3 separate regions of the Homo sapiens genome follow, and regions 1 and 3 are each linked to region 2. The links come from fine-mapping of genetic effects on gene expression. A gene starts in region 2. Each other region holds a variant in brackets. All regions are shown on one strand. Distances are from middle to middle. Region 1 overlaps LRRC28 (leucine rich repeat containing 28). Region 2 holds the start of LRRC28 (leucine rich repeat containing 28). Region 3 has its middle 220 kb from the start of LYSMD4.

The links. PIP is the estimated chance that this variant, and not a neighbour inherited with it, causes the effect. A credible set is the group of variants that fine-mapping cannot tell apart.
Region 1: its variant is the best candidate, but not a certain one, in a credible set for the expression of LRRC28 in whole blood (GTEx, PIP 0.56).
Region 3: its variant is the best candidate, but not a certain one, in a credible set for the expression of LRRC28 in whole blood (INTERVAL, PIP 0.67).

Annotation. Positions count from the first base shown.
Region 1 is chr15:99,271,325-99,276,324 of GRCh38, forward strand. All of the region lies in intron 2 of LRRC28 (leucine rich repeat containing 28), which reads left to right. Among named protein-coding and RNA genes, the nearest start is that of LRRC28, 22 kb to the left of the region's middle. The variant G/T (reference allele first, on the strand shown) is at 2,160.
Region 2 is chr15:99,248,839-99,253,838 of GRCh38, forward strand. It overlaps LRRC28 (leucine rich repeat containing 28), which reads left to right and starts at 2,643. Exons shown (of 10, transcript NM_144598.5): 1 at 2,643-2,703. TTC23 (tetratricopeptide repeat domain 23) reads right to left here and starts at 743. Exons shown (of 14, transcript NM_001288615.3): 1 at 333-743. RefSeq lists an enhancer at 2,118-2,167 and a silencer at 2,418-2,957.
Region 3 is chr15:99,943,219-99,954,052 of GRCh38, forward strand. No RefSeq gene overlaps it. Among named protein-coding and RNA genes, the nearest start is that of LYSMD4, 220 kb to the left of the region's middle. The variant CT/C (reference allele first, on the strand shown) is at 4,920.

The DNA of each region.
Region 1 (5,000 bases), 22 kb after region 2:
CTGGAGTGCAGTGGCACCATCTTGGCTCACTGCAACCTCTGCCTCCTGGGTTCAAGCGATTCTCCTGCCTCAGCCTCCCAAATAGCTAGGACTACAGGTGTGTGCCACCATGCCCAGCTAATGTTTATATTTTTAGTAGACATGGGGTTTCACCATGTTGGCCAGGATGGTCTCCATCCCTTGACCTCATGATCCACTTGCCTCAGCCTCTCAAAGTGCTGGAATTACAGGCGTGAGCCACCGCATCCAGCCCTATTTTTCTTTTATTTATTTATTTATATATTTATTTAGAGATGGAGTCTCACTCTGTTGCCCAAGCTGGAGTACAGTGGCGTGATCTCAGCTCACTGCAACCTCCCCCTCCTGGGTTCAAGGGATTCTCTTGCCTCAGCCTCCAGAGTAGCTGGTACTATAGGCGCATGCCACCACGCCCGGCTAATTTTTTTGTATTTTTAGTAGAGATGAGGTTTGACCATGTTGGTCGGGCTGGTCTCGAACTCTTGACTTCAAATGATCCACCCACTTTGGCCTCCCAAAATGTTGAGATTACAGGCTTGAGCCACTGCACCTGGCCAGTGTATCTATTTTTCTGTTGCTGCTCATGCTTTTGATGTAATAGCTATGAATTCATTGCCAAATCTAAGATTATGGAGATTTACTCCTATGTTTTCTTCTATGAAGTGTGGTTTTAGCTCTTAAATTTAAGTTGTTGATCCATTTTGAGTTAATTTTTGTATATGGTATGAGATAGTGGTCCAAATTCATTCTGCTTTCTTCTGCTTTTTATAGCTTGTATAACAACCCAAATGCATTTAATCTGTGACTTCTTTGAAATGTGTTGTTAGAAGCCAGGATGGAGCAGGTTTTGCCAAACCCTGAGTCCTAGTGGCTTGTAACAGCACACATATTTCTTGTCTACACTGTACTAGTCTCTCAGAGCCTGGAGCCTCTGCCCAGGAATGAAGCTGACAAAACGTCCACCGTCTGGTGGTCACTGTGGAAGGGGTGAGGTCTTTTGCACTCAATCTTGTCAAGGCTTCCTCTTTGGCTTAATTTCACTGACCAAGCTAGTCACTTAGCCATGGCCAGCTTGATGAAAGATGTGCAGTCCTAGCAGGTGTTCGGAAAGAGAAGGAAAGAAAGTAGGTAATGCACAGTGCCCACCAGAAAATACTATTGAACATGGTGGTGTTTGCAAAATATTTGACGTATTTGTTCCAAGTTAAAAAATTTTAAAACATTCCCATTTAAGTGGAGTCTAAAAGAATATGGTAAAGCATCATTGATTCAGAATTTGGGGTAAGTTTTATACTAACTGTGCTTGCTGAAGTTTACTTTTTCATTATTGTAAAGAAAAGTTGTTTAGCTAGATAATAATGTAAATGAGATTTAATGAAGAGAATCCTTGGCTTGATTTAGAGAAACAATTTCTAGGTAATTTAGTAGGAGGTATCTGAGTACATGTTATGTTTATCTGATAAACTTTTCTGTTTCAAATTGTGAAAAAAGAAGGTAATAATAGATTTGAGAAGCACTTTAAGACTATTGCTTTTATCAGGATTTTAAATTTAAAAACATTAAAAAACTTCATAGCTTGTAAATCCTATGGATTAGGATACACTAGTTTGTGTGGCTTCTGTAATCCAACATTAGAGCTTAGTTACCCACAAAGTAACAAAAATTCTGACATTAATTTCTAGTTGTCTAGTCTCTTATATGCTGTACCTAAATTATAGAAGTGTAAAAATTAAAACGTATAACATTTCTCAGCTACATTGCTAAAAATATGGCATTAGAAAACAGAGAGTGATATTATGGAACACCAGTAGGTGTCAGTCACAGCCTGTGCAAGGGCTGATTACTTGCCAGGAGTTTTGGGCATCTATTCCTAAGTGTGTGGTGTGTTTTTTTTTGTTTGTTTTTGTTTTTTGAGATGGAGTCTCACTCTGTCACCCAGGCTGGAGTGCAGTGGCGCGATCTTGGCTCACTGCAAGCTCTGCCTCCCGGGTTCAGGCCATTTTCCTGCCTCAGCCTCCTGAGTAGCTGGGACTACAGGCACTCACCACCACGCCCGGCTAATTTTTTGTATTTTTTAGTAGAGACAGGGTTTCACCGTGTTAGACAGGATGGTCTTGATCTGCTGACCTCGTGATCTGCCC[G/T]CCTCGGCCTCCCAAAGTGCTGAGATTACAGGCGTGAGCCACCGTGCCCGGCCGTGTCTGTGTGTTTTAAGGCGTTATTCTAATGAACTGCAATTTTCTCAAAGTGAATGTGCTTATTTTTAAATAAAAACACAATGTATCTACTTGTTAATAAAGACATAGAGATGCTCTATTGGCAACAGAAGCATTATTTCAGTGCTTAATTGTGTGTAGAGCTACACCTCAAAAGAACTAACTAGTTTGTCATGGAAAGATTAGAATGCTATTTGATGGAGCCAAGTAGACATCCAGAAAGAATGACCGTGGAGTGTGTGAATTAGCCAGATATAGTATTGGTATTAGCAGATGAAACTAGGTGAAGGTCTAACAGTCAAACAGCATTTCTTTTTGGACAAATCTTTCCTTTTTATAGGAACAGCTATAATTAAGGCCCTCCACCCACTGGTTCCCTAGTTTTTCTAGGATGCTTTGTATGTATGCCCATAAACGGAAGCGTATATTCTCAAGGGAGATACTGATAATAAAAACAAAACATTCCAGGGATTTAGACGGATCCACAAGGAACATCTGAGAAATGACTAGTTATGATGGATCTTGTTGCATATATCAGTATAGAAATATGGGGCAAAAAGAATCACAGCTTTCAGCATTTGAAAATGAAATACAAATGGTACTGTCAAGAGTGAGTATTCAAAAATGCTTCCTTGACTTCATAACAATATTCATATTCAATGATACTTGGTTATCACAAAAGGGAAGGATATGTATATATAAGCAGTTTGTGATACTGTTGCTAAGTATTTAAATACATCAGTATGCCAGTATGACATTAATAATGACATTTTCTGGTTTAAAATAAACCAGTGATTTTCCATTGTGTTCAGGATTTTTTAAAAGCTAGTCCTTAGTATAAAATATAAGCCTTTAGTGTTCTGTTCCTTGCCATTCTCTGTAAAATCTCACATCTTCATACCTAATGGCCCAGACATACCAAACTAATGTCATTTGTCTTAGTGAGTGTTTAGATCTCAAATTGTATATAACTGATTAATCAATTGTATAACAGCTTATGCTGCACACAGCAGATCTTAAAATTCAATTTTAATTTTTTCAATTATAAAAGACACATGCTTATTTTTAAAAATTCAAGTTTATGAAAAATTTCTTGGTTATTTAAAATAGTCAACTTTCTAGTACCTAACACGTTAGTTTTTCTATTGACATGATTGTTTTTCTAACAGGATTTTTGAAAATGTAAGATTTCTTCGGGAGTGCTGTTATGTAGTTATAGCAGAATGGATTGTATTTGCAGTTTCCCAATTGTACTTGTTCTCTTTTGGCTTTTCATATGTTGCTTCTTGTGCTTAGAAAGCTATACAGAACTACTCTCCTCTCCATTCCATGTCATCCTCTTATAATTTATGTCTTTTGGAACTCGGGTCAGACCTAATGTCTTCTAAAAAGCCATTCCTGATTCATTATTATTGATACACAGTTTACCCTATAGTAGCTTGAATGTAAATGAAAAAAAAATTAGTTTTGACTCAGTGTGCTCCTTCAGCCTTTCGACTCTTTCTTTTCGTATGTGTAAATTTGAACCCCCTATGTGTGTGTGAGAGAAAGAGAGAGAGATATTATATGTATATATATGCCTATATACTTGTGTGTGTGCGTATGCAGACTGGCTTTCAGTTATTTACAGGAGGCTTTCTCCACTACCCAGTACCTCCAGCAGAGAGAAGCCTGCTTTCAACCTGTGAGTAGACTTTTGTTCTAGGATTCTTTTCATGGAAAGGCCAGCCCTTTCAGGGCTCTGACTTCTTCTGGGTAAAGGACCTAGGTTTGTCTGCCTTTCTTTCTCCTGCCAATGGCCAATTTCCTGGCCCTCTACTCTGATGTCTGGACCTGTGGCCAGGTCTGACACTCCCTTGGACCACATGAGCTCCAGCTTCCCCTGTTCATTTGGAGCTTAGTCAGGTCTTGTACCTGGGGGCCCTGCAGATTTCCCTTACTTTCTCTCGAGGAGCATGATTTGGGAATTTGGAGGATATATTAGTTTTTCAGGGCTGCCGTGACAAATTATCAAAAACTGGGTAACTTAAAACAACAAAAATGTATTCTCTGACAGTTCTTGAGGCAGGGAGTCCACAATCAAGGTGTGATTTGGATTGGTTCCTTCTCAGGGCTCTGAGGGAGCACATGCTCCTTGAGTTTCTCCTTGCTGGGAGTGGCCGGCAACCTTCGGTGTTCCTCAGCTTCCAGTTACATCACTCCAGTTTCTGGTTCTTCCCTCTCTCTGTGTCTGTGAAGCACATTTTTATTTCTTCCATGACCATGGATTATGAGGTTTGTGGTTTCTCTAAGGCAGGGGTCCCCAATCCCTGGGCCACAGACCTGGTACCTGTTAGGAACGGGGCCGCACAGCAGGAGGTGAGTGGCAGGCAAGCAAGCGAAGCTTCATCTGTATTTATAGCCACTCCCTGTGGCTTGCATTACCGCTTGAATGCCACCTCCTGTCCCATCAGCAGCAGCATTAGATTCTCATAGCACAAACCCTATTGTGAACTGCACATGTGAGTGATCTAGTTTGTGCACTTGTTATGAGAATCTAGTGCCTGACGATCTGTCACAGTCTCCCGTCACCCCCAGATGGGACCATCTAGTTGCAGGAAAACAAGCTCAGGGTTCCCACTGATTCTTCATTATGGTGAGTTGTATAATTATTTCATTATGTATTACAATGTAATAATAATAGAAATAAAGTGCAAAATAAATGTAATGCGCTTGAATCATCCCCAAACCACCCCCACAACCTTGTCTGTGGAAAATTTGTCTTCCATG
Region 2 (5,000 bases):
GGATTTTTTTGAGAATTTACCCTTACATGCTGATTCTGCTTCAGGTATCTGTAGTATGTTTTGTTCAGCCATTAGCAGATCTGTCCCTGGAATCCCTAATCCACAAATATACACAAAATTTGGGTTCAAGCAACTCTATTTTCTCCTATATCTTTTAATAGATATATTATCTATTATGCCAGGTATGACAATATATAAACAAAAATATCCATATAAAAATTACAATATTACTAAATGTCCTTCTAAATCCACACTTAAGCAACAATAACGAAGCACAGTTTCTTAAAGTAGAAAATGATCTATAGTTAATCTTATTATCTTGCCTCCTTTACCTTTCAAAAATCCACTGATAATCTGGGCATGATGCTTTCAAACTTCACCCTAAAGAGAAAAATGCTCTCTGAACACTCTTCTTCCTGCTGTCTTTAAATTGTGCCTGTATTTTCTCTGCTTTTCCTTTGACACTCAATCACTCCTTTAAAACTTGTAAAAAACCGGAAAAGTTTCTGTAACTCTCCAATCTCCAACTATGTCGTAAAATCCCTTGCCAGTTTACCCAGTCTGCTGGAGAGGCTCACCGTTTCTTTTTCGAGCGAATTACACAGTTGTCTTGGCAGCGTGATTTGCCCTCTGGTTCCTGCTTTATCAGTTTGGTGATTCTTTGTACAGATTGATAACCATGAAAAAGTCTAAAGTAGGGCAGTTCCGGAGCAGCCTTTTCCCATAAAGCAAGCGGGTACCTCACAAAACTCCAGGCAAAAGAATGAATGATAGAGCACTCACCAATAGCGAGTGGAGAAGAGTATTTTGTCGAAGTTTGCAAACCAATCTTTGGGAGCCAGAGGTGGGAATTTTAAAATGAGGTCTTTTCCTTGGAATTTTCTTAAAGTGGTATCGTTGCCTGTTGATATTGAAGTTTGTCAAAGAACGTGAAATCACCAGCTTAGAGGATTTTTTTCCCCTTTAAGAGAGACAAAACGTGCGAATTGATTCTCTACAAATTGTGAGAACTTCAAGAGTGGGGTCATAAAGTATTATCAAATATAATCACTTGGTAACTTTTGTGTCAATGTGGGGAGGAGGTGAAGGTTATTTTAACATGATTCATTTTTCATGATCAAATATCAGATATTAATCACTGAAAAACAGTATTCCCCATTAAAAAAAAGAAATGAAAACTAAGAGGCTAACATTGTTTTCAAAAAACTGTTCTACTGTTAATCTTTTTTCTTTTTTGGGGGGTGTAACTCTTCATATATTAGCAGCAAGTCTTATTATTTGGGCTGACCATTAAACACCGTATCTTTGTTTTTACACAAAATGTGGATTTCCTCATTTTAAGACCAGCAAAAAATTTCTGAGTGCCACGAATTCTTAGGTATTCCGAAACTATCTTAGAAATACATGACATATACCAACCATGCTGTATACCTGAATAGCTCTTGAAGACCAGATTTAATAGATAACTGATAATTTTTATTATAACTCATACCTTGTTTTAAAACCAATGTTTTTTATTTAATATAACTCTGCTTTCTAGGTTATTCGTCTCTATGAATAATTAAGTCAGCAACTGTAAAAACTACTTCATTATAAAGTTAAAGTTCCTTGACAAGGAGCCTCGCAAACTCATAGACAGGCTTTCCACAGAACAAAAAATATCAGCGGTTGTAGTAGAGGATTATACTTTAAAATCTTCATTTCAGAAGGAAATTTGTCATATTAATGAGACACTTTAAAAAGTGTCTTTTAAAAATGTTTCCGAACTATGCTTCCAAGTATTTTTAACAGCATAAAGCCCTCTTTCATGCTATTTCGCTGACATAATAATTTTCGTCTTGAAGAAATACATATTGACGGCCTACTCAGTCAGGCTAGGAAGTGTCATTGTATTTAACTCTCTAAATTGTTCCTGACCTTTTTAGCAATCTTTACTCAAAATAAACCTTGGGTGTTTGAAGGGCAGAGACTAGGTTACGTCCTCCTCATCTTTGTTATCTACCAGTTCGTAGTGACCCCTTAAATCCGGTGCTTAGACTCACTACTTGCTAAATAACGTTGGCTTCGTTACATAAACCCACTGGCCTGTTTTTCAACGGTCAGACTGGCGCTGTTAGTCCCTGTGTCATGGGATTGCTGTCAAGGGTTCAACGAGATAATCTATAAACAGCTCTTAGAACGAACGCTCAACGTGGGATCATTGTTGTAATCCCTCAACGTGTGCTCTGAATGAGAAGCCGAGTGACTGAATGAATGTATGAATGAAGGAACAGGTCAGTAACTGGCGGTTCCCGAAGTTGGAGCCGACTAAATTACCCCTTCAAGACGCTAAGCAAAAGCCACTCCGTCGACATCAAACCCCACGCCGGAGCCGGAAGCAAGAGTAGAGCCGCGGGCGGGGCCAGCATAGAGGAAGTAGCGCTCTCGGCCAATACACAGATCGCTTGGCAAACGAGCATTTTCCCGCGCCTATCGTGAAAGCGCGAGAACACAGGGGATTATCGCGAGGTTCCGTGCTCCTCTCCCGCTCCCTCTTCCCCAGCTCCCTCTGGCGCGGGTTCCGCTCCACCCCCGGAGCCCCGCCCCCGACGCCCGGCGCTCCGCCCCGCCCTCGCCTGGCTCCCTGCCCCGCCCCGCCCGCCGTCCCCCGCTTGGCTTCCAGCGCCGCTTGCGCTCCGGAGCGCTGGCTCTGCTGGCGCTGAGGTGAGTAGAGCTGTCCGCCTCGTCGGGTGATTCAAGTGGCGAGGCTCTCTGACCCGGCCCCCCGGCGGGGACGCCCCAGACGTGGTCCTGCCAAAGCGTCCGGGTCGCGGCGAGTGGGACAGCGGAGCCGTCCGGGCCTCGGGTGGCCACAGCTGCCGGGTCCTCCTCCCACTCTGCGGCCCGCGGCCCCTGGGACCCGAGAACCCTGATACCGGGTCCGTGAAATCCCTGCTGCTGGGCTCGCTGCTTCCCAACTGTAACGATCTCAGTGGCTGGCTAACTCGGGCGAAACGGCGTGTGTTTTGCCTAAGACTCTGCCAGTGTTTGTTACCACAGCTGAGAAAATAGCCTTTTACAAATGCTTTTAATATGTAGCTTATAGTTCTCTAATCTCCAGCGTTAGGAAATTGGAATGCGTATTCTACTAAATTGAGTACGGGGAGGTCAGTATAAGGGACTCCTTCCTTTCAAAATACTCCTTAATATGTGTGGAATTTTGTTGAGAGGTTTTTGATTTTTTTGTTTTGTTTTTAATAATAAGATAGATTGGTGTTCACCTGTCAGAAAGCTCGTGTGTAAGTGCAGCTGTATACAGCTGATATTAAGTAATACTATTTGCCTTAACTACATAAGAGGTAGTATAACTATACAAGAGGTAGTTTGCTTAACTAGGTAAGATGTAGTCAAGTGAAATGGGGTAAGAAAATTACCTTGTTAAAGGCTGTGTATGGCCCGTGAATGCATACTGCAAAACTGTGAGCATTGTTGATGCTTTATTGCTATTATTGGCAGTTTTAGGATTTCATTTGTTTAGATTTTATCTCCCAAACAGCCTTTGTAGCAATTTTAACAGAGTGTAATGGTGTTTTTGAGGCAGCCAATCCCAGCCAGAACATTCAGAAGGAAAGCCGTCAGGTTACAGGGACTGTCTTATTGAATCTTCCTTCAGTGAGTGTGGTTTTGCATTATAGGGCGGCGGTGCACACGCTTTGTAGTCAGTCCACCTGCGATGGAACTATGGCATGTTACCCTCTGAGAAACTCAGTTTCCTCCTCTACAAAACGGGCTACATAATGTCTATTGCAGTGCATGGTTGTAAAGATTAGACATCCTTGTGGCATGTAGCAAGCTTATAGGCTCTATCCGTGGTCTTGACATAGTTGGATGAAAAATCAACCTTGCAATGTTCTTCCACATGTCATCAGATATTAGAAGGCCTACTTTAAAATTTTAAGTCCCTGGATACATGTGCAGAATATGCCGGTTTGTTACATAGGTAAACGTGTGCCATGGTGATTTGCTGCACCTGTCAACCCATCACCTAGGTTTTAGGAAGGGTTACTTTTAGTTACTGTGCTAGATGCAGGTATGCAAGCGTGAAGAAAACAACGCAGTCCCTGCCCTCAGGATTTCTAAATAAGTTTCGGAAGGGTTTATTTACAGGCTTTTTGGCTTTATTGACAATAGACAGATGCAACGATAAATATTTAAGTGACAAATTGTGAGGAGTCCTACGAAGAAAAAACAAACAGCCAAGTTCCTCTGAAAGAACACCAGGGGAATTACTTTGGGATAGGGAAGTGATTTTTTTTTTTTTAAGACTGAGTCTCGCTCTGTCGCTCAGGTTGGAGTGCAGTGGTGCGATCTCGGTTTACTGCAAGCTCCGCCTCCCGGTTTCAAGAGATTCTCCTGCCTCAGTCTCCCGAGTAGCTGGGATTACAGGCGCCCGCCACCAAACCCAGCTAATTTTTGTATTTTTAGTAGAGATGGGGTTTCGCCAAGTTGGCCAGGCTGGTCTCGAACTCCTCACCTCAGGTGATCCACCCTCCTCGGCCTCCCAAAGTGCTAGGATTACAGGCGTGAGCCACTGCGCCCGGTCTCAGGAAGTAATTTTTATGTTGAAATCTGGAGAATGATGGGACATTGCTTTCTAGGCTAAGAGGAGACCAGCAAGTGCTGTTAGGGGTTTAGTAGCTTTGAGGATTGGAAAAGCCCAGAAGCTTGGTGAGAAGCCAAGCAGAGTTGCTGGAGAAGTGGGTGGGGGCAGATGGTGAGGCACCCTCAAGGCCTAGTATGAGTTGATTTTCTAAGTAAGAAGTTTCTGAAGGGTTTATTTAGTAAGATGTGTACCGAAAAGAGTGAGATGTAATTGGATGTACATTTTTAAAGGCCCATTGCTGGGATTAATGTGTTGGAAGTGACTAGAGTGGACACAGGGAGACTGGTAATACTGTTGGCCAGGCAGGAGATGACTGTGGCTTGTGGTTTTGGCAGATGGAGAGATTTGGATGGATTTG
Region 3 (10,834 bases), 700 kb after region 2:
TTCCCCACAATGAGAAGACTAGCTGAGAGGACCCCTTTTGATGTTCTGACACAGCCCACGAGCAGCTGCAGCAGCGTGGGGTTCCAGGTCACAGGTGACAAGAGCAAATGTGGAGCTTGGGCCCTGGACTCAGGGTCTTGAGAACGAACTGTGGCACCTGGGTCTTGGGGTACAGGTTCAATCTCTGAAGGAAGGGTTGCATGCAGACTGCCCACAGAGCCAGAGTCTATAATCTGAGGCAACTCCCAGCAGCTTGAACCCAGGCGGCCGGGTTGTAGCTGTGACTCCGACTCTAGGGGTTAGGGAATAGCACTGGCCTAGCTTCATAGAAGAAGGGGAGCTCTGGAGGTGTGAGCCTGGGCATCAGGGGTACAGCTGCAATTCAGGAACCAGAGCCAATAGGGTACAATGGCAACTCAGGCGTAGGGGGGATGAAACACCATGTAGTCATGACTCTGGACCCTGGGATGGTGGGAAATGGGAGGCTCGGTAAGGCAAGGTGAGGCTGCAACAAGGATCTCAGATTAGCAGAGTTCAGCTTTCACTTGGGTCCACAGCGCCAGTTGGGGAGGGGGAGGCAGGGAGAAGTACGACAATGGCACTATTCCTTGTGAGTGAAATGTCTCAGCAGCTCAGACTCTAGGGGTGAGTCCAGTTCCAGAGAAGCAAGGTACTACAGTTATTTGCCCAGTAGGATGGGGTGTCGCAGCTTAGCCACTGCCCTATTTCCCTGGGACACAGGGGACCATGTCAGTTCATCCCTGGGATGTGCCACTGCTTAGCTTGGCCAAGGCATTAATTACACCGGAGGTGATGCACCATTTCAGCTGAGGCCTGGGGAGTGTGGCTGCTCTGGGCAGTCAGGGCACCATTTGCTGGAATGCAGGGTGCCACTTCAGTTCTGGCCTGGAGAGTATGGATGCTCTAGACAGCCAATGTAGCATTTCCCCAGGATGCAGTGTGCCACTTCAGCTCAGGCCTGGAGGGGCAGGGCACAGTAGCAACTGGGAGTGGTAGATGAAGTAGTTCTACAGTAGCATGGCCGCATGGGGTAGGGTGTAGCAGCAGCTCTTCTCAGGGATGGCAGACCACCAGGCAGGGATGGCCCAGTGGTGTCAAGGCCTCAGGGATGGAAAGGTGCTGAGGGTGCTGTGATCACTCACTCCTGGAGCAGGACACACTCCAGCAGTGATTCTGGTTCCAAGATGTCATAGCACAGTAGCCAGGCCACTGGAGTGGGACACAATGTTGACTCCTTCTCTTGGGGGAGCACAGCTGTGTGAACTCCAGGCAACTCCCTAGGCTGGCCTTAGTGCCTGTGAGAACTACAGGTGTCCAAGGTGATAATGGAGGCTGATGAAGTTCTTACCTTTTCTCTGTAGGAAATAGTCCCTCCTAGTTTTTAGTTGATCCCAACTGGGAAATGGGGTGGCAGAGGTGAGCTGTGTTCCTTCCTTTCTCCGTGGGGCAATAGTGGGTTTCTTTGCTCTACAGGGTTTCTGCTACTCCTTTGATGTACTTTGGTGCCCTCCTTTAGTTATTTTCATCAAAAAGTGGTGGTTTGTTTGTTGTTTTGGCTGTCTTTGTGGGTGGATGAGTGCGAGGGTCTTCAGTCAGTCATCTTGCTGATGTTACTCTAAAACTTCGCTTCTGTTCCTAGTGTGTTGTGTTTTTATCATGAAAGAGTGTGGTGTTTTGTCAAGTACTTTTTCTGAATCTGTTGATGATTATGCTTTTCCCCCTCCTTTTTTTGGTTAATATTTAGTTTCTCTCACTTCTATTGGTATCTTATATTATTAAATTAACATTATCTGATTAATATGTGGTATGCAGAATAATGACAACTCAAAGAGGCCCAAGTCCTAATCTTCAGAACCTATAAATATATTATCTTATGTGGTAAAAGTAACCTGTAGATGTTAGGTTAAGGTTCTTGAGGTGGGGAGATTTTCTTGGATTATCTGGGTGGAACTAATGCAATCACAAGAGTACTTATAGAAAAGATATAGGAAAATCAGAATCAGAGAAGATGATGTAATGATAGAAACAGAGTTTTAAAGATGCTATCTAGTTTGTGTCACCAGATTTATGGTAACTTGTTACAGCAGCCATAGGAAACTAAAGCAATTACATTGGTTGATTTTTCATATGTTGAACCAAGGTTGCATTCCCAGGATAAATCCCACTTGGTCATAGTGTTTAATTCTTGTAATATACTGCTATATTCTGTTTGCTACTATTTTGTTGAGGACTTTTGAATCTATACTCATAGGGACATTTTTCTTTTTTTCTTTTTTTTTTTTGAGACAGGGTCTCATTCTGTAATGCAGGCTGGAGTGCAGTGGCATAATCATAGCTCACTGCAGCCTTGAACTCCTGGGCTCAAGGGATCCTCCCACCTCAGCCTCTAGAATAGCTAGGACTACAGACATGTACCACTACACCTGGCTAATTAAAAAAATTTTTTTGTAGCGATGGTGTCTTGCTATGTTGCCCAGGCTTGTCTCAAACTCTTGACCTCAAGCAATCTTCCTGCCTTGGCCTCCCAAAGTGCTGGGATTACAGGCATGAGTCACTGTGCCCAGCCTCATGAGGAATATTGACCCATAGTTTTCTTTTAATGACTTTGTCTGATTTTGGCGTCAAGGTAATATCGGCCTCATATAATGAGTTGAAAAATGTTCCCTTATTTTCTATTTTTGGGTAACTTGGTCAAAGATTAGTTAGCTCATAAATAGTTTGGTAGAACTCACTAGTGAAGCCGTTTGGTCCTAGCCTTTTTCTGTGTGTGTTGAAAGTGTTTTGATTACTGACTCAATCTCTTTACTTGTCATAATCGATTCATATTTTCTATTTTTTCTTGAAGTAGTTTTGGCAATTTTTACCTTTCTAAAAATTTGTCAACTTCATCTAGATTATCTAATTTTTTGGCATTCAGTTCATAATATTCCCTTATATCCTTTTTATTTCTGTAAGTTTGGTAGTAATATCATCTTCATTTCTGGTTTTAATACTTTGAGTCTTCTTTTCTTTTTTGGGCAACATAGCTAATAGTTTGTCATTTGTGTTGATTTTTTTAAAATAATTTTTATGGTCATTGATTTTTTTCTCTCATTTTTCTATTTCCACGCTTATTTTTATTATTCAATTTCTTATGCTTGCTTTCAGTTTAGTCTGTACTTCATGTCCAGTTTCTTAATGTTGAAGGGTAGGTTATTTACTTTTTTTGAAGTGAAAGCTTGTGTAGCTAAAAATATCTCTTTGAGCACCGTTCTAAGTGCATTCAATAAGTTTTGGAATGTGTCTTCATTTTCATTTATCTCAAAGTATGTTCTAATTTTCCTAACACTTTCTCCTTTGATTCATTGGTTATTTAGGAGTATGTTGTTTAATTTCACATATTTGTGCATTTCCCAAATTTCTCTCTATTATAGATTTCTAATTCCATTATAGTTGGAGAACATGCTTTGTATGATTTGAATCCTTTTAATTTACTGAGACTTGTTTTATGGCCTAGCATATGGATAATGTTCCCTATGCACTTGAGAAGAATGTGTATTCTGATATTGTTGGGTGGAGTTCTATAAATATCTGTTAAATATAGTAGATTGATGACATTGTTCAACTGTTGTATTTTATAAGTTTGTAATTGTTAGATTGTCTTGATGGATTGACCCTTTTATCATTATAAAATTATTTCCTTGTCTCTAGTAACAATTTTTGACTGAAAGTCAATTTTGTCTGAAATAATTATAGCCACTCCAACTCTCCTTTGGTTACTGTTTGTGTGGCACATCTTTTGCTATCCTTTTATTAATTCTTTCAACCTATATGCGTCTTTGAATCTAAAGTGAGTCTCTCATAGATAACAGTCGGATCATGTTTTTATTTTAAATCCATTCTGACAATCTATGCCTTTTAATTAGAGAGTTTAATACATTTATATTTAATTTAATTACTGATAGGGTAGAATTTATGTATGCCATTCTGCTGTTTGGTTTTCTATTAAGTCTTATATCTTTTTCTTCTTCAATTCCATCATTACTGCCTTTTCTGTTAAAAAGATATTTTCTATGTACAATCTCAATTCCCTTGTTTTTTCTTTAACAATATATTTTTGAGTTATTTTCTTAGTGGTTGCCCTGGGAGTTTACCATTAACGTCTTGATTTATAGTAATCCAGTATGTAATAATATCAACTTAATTTTAATAGTATACAAAAACTTTGTTACTATATAGCTTTGTTCCCTCCTCCATCTTCATGCTCTTTTTAAAAATAATGTATTATATCAACTAGTCATTATATATATATATATATATATATATATATATATATATATATACATTTTTTTTTTTTTTTTTTTTTTTTTTGTCTTGCTCTGTCGCCCAGGCTGGAGTGCAGTGGCACAATCTCAGCTCACTGTAACCTCTGCCTCCCGGGTTCAAGCAATTCTCATGCCTCAGCCTCCCAAGTAGCTGAGATTACAGGCTCCCACCACCGTGCCTGGCTAATTTTTGTATTTTTAATAGAGCCAGGGTTTCACCATGTTGGCCAGGCTGGTCTCAAACTGACCTCAAGTGACCCGCCTGCCTCAGCTTCCCAAAGTGTTGGTATTACAGGCGTAAGCCACCACACCTGGCCCATTATAGGTAATTCTTAAAACAACCTGAAAGTTAGGTATATTTATTCTCATTTTATAGATGATGAAATTGGCAGATAGTGTAGTTAAGTACCTTCTCTAAGGTATAAATGCTTAAAAAAGGGATGACTGAGATTCAAGCCCAGGTTTTCCTTACTCAGTTTATTTTTACTTTCAACCACAAGTATCTCTTCCTCTATTTCCCATCTCTATCATAATGACTTGGCAAACCTTACCTCTTCAACTTCTGCCAGGCTATGTAAGGTTAGAAGTTTCTTT[CT/C]TTTTTTTTTTTAACACCAAAGTTTCTCTCTCATGTAATAGTGAAATGCAGGGTGTCTATAGATGATACAGAGTTTCATGATATTGGGGTATAGATTTTTTCTCATTGCTCTGGTAGTTTCTTTTAAATCTCTTTCCTTTGATATCTACTGTAATAGGAATTTTTTTTTTTTTTTGAGATGGAGTCTTGCTCTGTCACCCAGGCTGGAGTGCAGTGGCACGATCTTGGCTCACTGCAAACTTCGCCTCCTGGGTTCAAGCAATTCTTTGCCTCAGCCTCGCAAGTAGCGCCCACTACCACACCTGGCTAATTTTTGTATTTTTAGTAGAGATGGGGTTTCACCATTTTGGCCAGGCTGGTCTTGAACTCCTGACCTCATGATCTACCCACTTCGGCCTCCCAAAGTGTTGGGATTGCAGGAGCGAGCCACCGTGCCTGGTCAATAGGACTTCTTAAAAATGAATTAATATTTTATGTTGAAAATTATAAATATTTATGGTATATAACATGATTTGAAATATATACACGTTGTAGAATGGCTAAATTTAGCTAATTAACATGCATTACCTCATGTATTTTTTTGTGGTGAAAACACTTAAAATCTATGTTCTTAGTGATTTTTGAATATACAGTACATTGTTAACTATAGTCACCATGCTGTACAACAGATCTCTTGAACTTATTCCTAATGTATATCTGAATTTTGCATGCTTTGACCAACATCTCCCCAACACCCCATACCCCAGCCCCTGGCAAGCACCATTATATTCTCTGCTTCTATGAGTTCAACTGTTTTAGTGTTTTTTTTTTTTTTTTTGAGACAGGGTCATGCTCTGTCACCCAGGCTGGAGTGCAGTGGCACGATCTTGGCTCACTGCAATCTCTGCCTCCCAGGTTTAAGCAATTCTCCTGCCTCAGCCTCCCTAATAGCCGGGAGTACAGGTGCTTACCACCACACCTGGCTAATTTTTGTATTTTTAGTAGAGACAGGGTTTCACCATGTTGGCCAGGCTGGTCTCGAACTCCTGATTTCAAGTGATCTGCCCTCCTTGGCCTCCCAAAGTGCTGGGATTACAGGCGTGAGCCACAGCACCTGGCCTAGATTTCATGTGTGAGATCATGTGGTATTTGTCTTTCTGTGTTTGGCTTATTTCACTTAACATATCTTCCAGGATCATCCATGTTTTTGCAAATGACAGAATTTCCTTCTTTTTAAGGTTAAATAGTATTCCATTTTGTATACACAGCCACATTTACTTTATTCATCTGTTGATGGACACTTGGGTTGTTTCTCTATCATGGTCTTTGTGAATAATGCTGCTGTGCACATGGAAGTGCAGATATCTCTTTGACATATCGATTTCCTTTGTATATATATCCAGTGGTAGGATTGTTGGGTCATATGGTAGTTCTATTTTTAAGAAGCCTTCATACTGTTTTCTGTAATGGTTGTACTGATTTACATTCCCACCAACTATGTACAAGGGTTTCATTTTCTCCACATTACCAACACTTGTTATTTTTCATCTTTTTGATAATAGCTATTCTAACAAGTGTGAGATCTCACTGTGGTTTTAATTTGCATTTCTCTAACGTTTAGTGATGTTGCAAATTTTTTCATATATCTGTTGGCCATTTGTATGTCTCCTTTTGAGAAATGTGTATTCAGGTCCTTTGCTCACTAAAAACAAATAAGGTTATTTGTTTTCTTGCTATTGAGTTGCTTGAGTTCTTCAGATATTTTTGATTTAAACCATTATCAGATGTATGGTTTGCAAATATTTTCTCCTGTAAATTGTCTCTTTATGCGGTTGGTTGTTTTCTTTACTGTGTAGAAACTTTTTAGTTTATATAATCCCATATGTGTATTTTTGCTTTTTTTGCCTGTGCTTTTTGGGTCATATCCAAAAAATAATTGCCCAGACCAATGTCATCAAACTTCCCCCTATGTTCTCCTCTAATAGTTTAACATTTTCAGGTCTTACATTTAAGTTTTTAATGCATTTTATTTTTGTATATGGTGTGAGATAAGGATCTAATTTCAATCTTCCATATGTGGCTATCCAGTCTTCCCAGCACCATTTAATTTACACTGTCCTTCCCCTCATCATGTATTTTTGCCATCATTGTGGAAAAAATCAATTGCAAATGTGTAGATTTATTTTGGGGCTCTCTAGTCTGCTTCCTTGATTTATATGTCTGTTTTGGGGCCAGTGCCATGCTCTTTTGATTACTATACCTTTGTAGTGTATTTTGAAGTCAGGTAGTGTGATGCCTCTGGCTTTGTTCTTTTTGCTCAAGACTGCTTGGGCTATTTGGGTCTTTTATGGTTCCATATGAGTTTTAGAATTGTTTCCTATTTCTGTGAAAAATGTCGTTGGAATTTTGATGGGAGTTGCATTGAATCCATAGGTCACTTTGGGTAGTATGAACATTTTAACAATATTATTTATTCCAATCCAGGAACACAGGATATCTTTTCACTTATTGAAGTCTTCCTCAATTTCTTTCATCAATGTTTTATAGTTTTCAGTGTATAGATCTTTGCCCTCCTTAATTATTTCTATTTTTTGATAGATATTATTAAGTGGGATTGTTTCTTGATATTAAGTGGGATTGTTTCTTGATTTTTTTTCTCATATAGGTCACAGTGTATTTCTTTTATGCTCTTATTATAAATTACATTTCTATACATTATGTGTCCATTGACAGAGGCTTGTTTCATATAGTTTTCTCCTATTTTAAAACAAATAGGAGAAAAGGAGTTACAAAAATTCCAGTTGTACTGTCTTTTATATCTACCTATGTAGTTACCTTTATCAGTGCTGTTTATTTCTTCATGTGGATTCACATTTCATTGCCACCTGTCCCCCCTGTCTTCACATTCATTCCCTCTCACTGTCTGATGTATCTTCCTTCCCTACAGTTTCAGACATCCTTCCATTCCACCTGGCAGGCCTGTAAGAGTTTCACTTCCTGCCCATGCAGCCAGTGACCCCTGCTGCCTTTGGAAATCACTGGTTACAGGTTGCCTTTTCTCCCTGCCCTCATCCAAAGCACAATGTGAAGGCATCTATTTCCCAGTCTGTGGGAATATGATCCACTTGAAGGCAAACTGACTTTTTAAAAAATCATATTTCCCATCCTCTCACTAGGAGGCTGAAGCAGTAACCTCTAAAGTGTCTGTTCTACTCTAGCTAATTGCACGTGGCTAGCAACCATTAAACAAAGCAGTTGCCCCCATAAGCAGATATTGGGCTCCAGTAGGGATGCTGTAAAACACAGGGTGGACTTAGTAATGGGTTTCTGGTAGGAACAGACCACCGGGGCTGGCCATTAACACTACGTTACTCAGGGCTATTGTTCATGGACTAATCAATTGTGAATTAGAGTTCTGAGCCATGTATAACTTATTTGTGGCATGGCGTCACCATTAATCATGTTCTGGAATGCCAAGAAAAGACTGAATTGAGTTATGCATTGAAGGTTTAAGGTTTCTTGAAACCAAGCTCACTTAACAGTATTCATGAGTAGATGACGTACTGTGGTAACCGGTCCTTGGTATTAGTCCAATTTCGCAGTGATCCCAGGGGCTAGATAGCTGAGCAGATGCTGAGGTTTCTGGAAAACAGTGACTAGTGTTCGGCATGAGTCTGGGGAGAAACCATATATGGCATATCTTATATTTTCAAAGCTCCAAGTGAGACCAAATGAGAAGGAGAGGTTTAAGATTTCCACATAAAATTCAAATGTTGTATTGGGCTTGGGGGAGAGAGAGAGGTCAGATTTCCTTGCAGTTTGGAACTTCCTTGGAATTCCATAGTACTAGAAACTGACCTTAACATGAGAGTCAACTTTGGAGGGAGAAGACACAAAGCAAGCTCGGAGTTGCAGAGACTTCTAACCTCTAGGTACTTCTTAATGCTCTTGCTACACTATCACCAACAACAATCACACTGGCTACCATGTCTTTGGACCTACTGAGTGCCAGGTGCTGTCCTAGGTGTCTTGCAGACATTAACATATGTAGTTTAACGTTCAGAGCAATATTCCATGGCAAGTTATATTATCCCTATTTTAAGATGGCAAACCATGTAGCATGTGTACCTGTGGCATTGAACACACACAAATTCCAGGTCGGGGGAGTCCCCATGAAGCATGTTCTTGCCACCTCTTCACTGTCTCTATAAATCTATTCTTGGGGCTGGTTCTTCCCCTGACCCTGGATGAAAGTTTTGGTCCATGAATTTTTTTGGTCTCTCCAAGGTAATAAAAATAGTTTCCCAGTCAACTTTCTCAAGTCAACTTAAGTTGCAAAATATGGTCTCGATTCAGTAATAAAACTATCCAGTTTCGTGGCATAATACAACTCTGAATTTCGTTTAAAGTTGAATCTATTCTTTCTCTTCTGGCTTCAGGAGGAAGATTGCCTGGGGGAAGAGTCCACAGTAAGCCTGTTAGAGCTTTCCCCACCTGGGAATTCTTTGTCTTCCATGGGCTGGGGGCAGGTGGAGGGGAAAGGGGACCAGGAAGGTTCCTTCTTGGCAGATACTGATGTGACTATCAAATATGATTGTTCTCTGGGCCTTGCAAGTGCTCAGAGCTAACTTTGCCTCCTAGAGCACGTTCATAGGTGGCCTGGAGATACACATCCATCACCCTGTTATCTGCTGACATCTCTCTCCTGCAGGCTGATGTAGAAGATGGGCTTTTCTCTACTTGCGGTTAGTACTCCTTCTTCAGCTCCAGGGACGCTGGTGGATCACAGCTGGTATTCTCCTATTGTCTCCTCACCACACAGTCCCCTTGGACAGGACCTAAGCCACCGCACATCAGCTGTCTCTCGTACATGGCCCCCCACTGTCTCTACTCTGACACACTCTGAAAGTGCAGGCTGATTCTGGTGCAGCTACCTCCCTTCCTCTGCCATCAAAGTAGCTAGGTTGCCTGCTATAGACTGAATTGTCCCCCTGCCCCCCATTCATATGTTGAACCTTAACCCCCAGTGTGACTGAATTTGGAAACAGGGCCTATAACAAGGTAATTAGGGTTAAATGAGGCCATAAGGGTGGGGCCCTCATCCGTAGGATTAGTATCCTTATGAGAAGGGACACCGAGAACTCTCCTTCACTCTTTCTCCAAGAGTGCTCAGAGGAAAGGCCATGGGAGGACACAGCAGCTGTCTGAGAGCCAGGAAGAGCACCCTCGCCAGAAACCAAGCCCTGCTGGATCTTGATCTGGGACTTCCAGCCTCCAGTACTATGAGAAATAGAGTTCTTTTGTTTAAGCCACTTCTGTGGCTTTCTGTCCTGGCAGCCCCAGCCAACAAAGGGCCAATCTCTTTCCATCTGGATTTCTCAGCTGTGAGCCAGGTACCCATCCACTATGCTGCCTAAACATCTGGGTACGTGTATGGTATGAAGTCCCTTTTGAGGTCTCCATGTAGCCCCTCTTCTTTTCTAGGCCCAAGATGGGTGGGAGGTACCATCTCCTCATTGGCAGGGCTGGAACGAGGCACACCAGTGGCTATCTCCAAAGAAATATTTTAATCACCAAAGCCCAGCTTTTTTACATCCATACCCATGGGTAAGGGGTTTTGGTTTGATGGTTTGGGGTCAGGTATTGTCTTGGGCACATGGTATCTCTGCATATTGATGTCAGTCCAAACTTCCATTTTCACATTGTTTAGTAACCAGTTGGTGAGAAGCTAGGCCCGTGTCTTGAATCCAGGTCTCTCTGACTAGGATTTGTAGTCTTTCCAAAACTATATTGCCCTGACTCTCTGAAATACAACGATTTCAGACTGTAAACTCACGAGGGCAGGGCTGTGTCTGTCATGTCTACCACTGTATCTCTTGACTTCTAACGTGTTTAACACAGAGCCCATGCTATTATGGATGTGGAAGTTGCCACG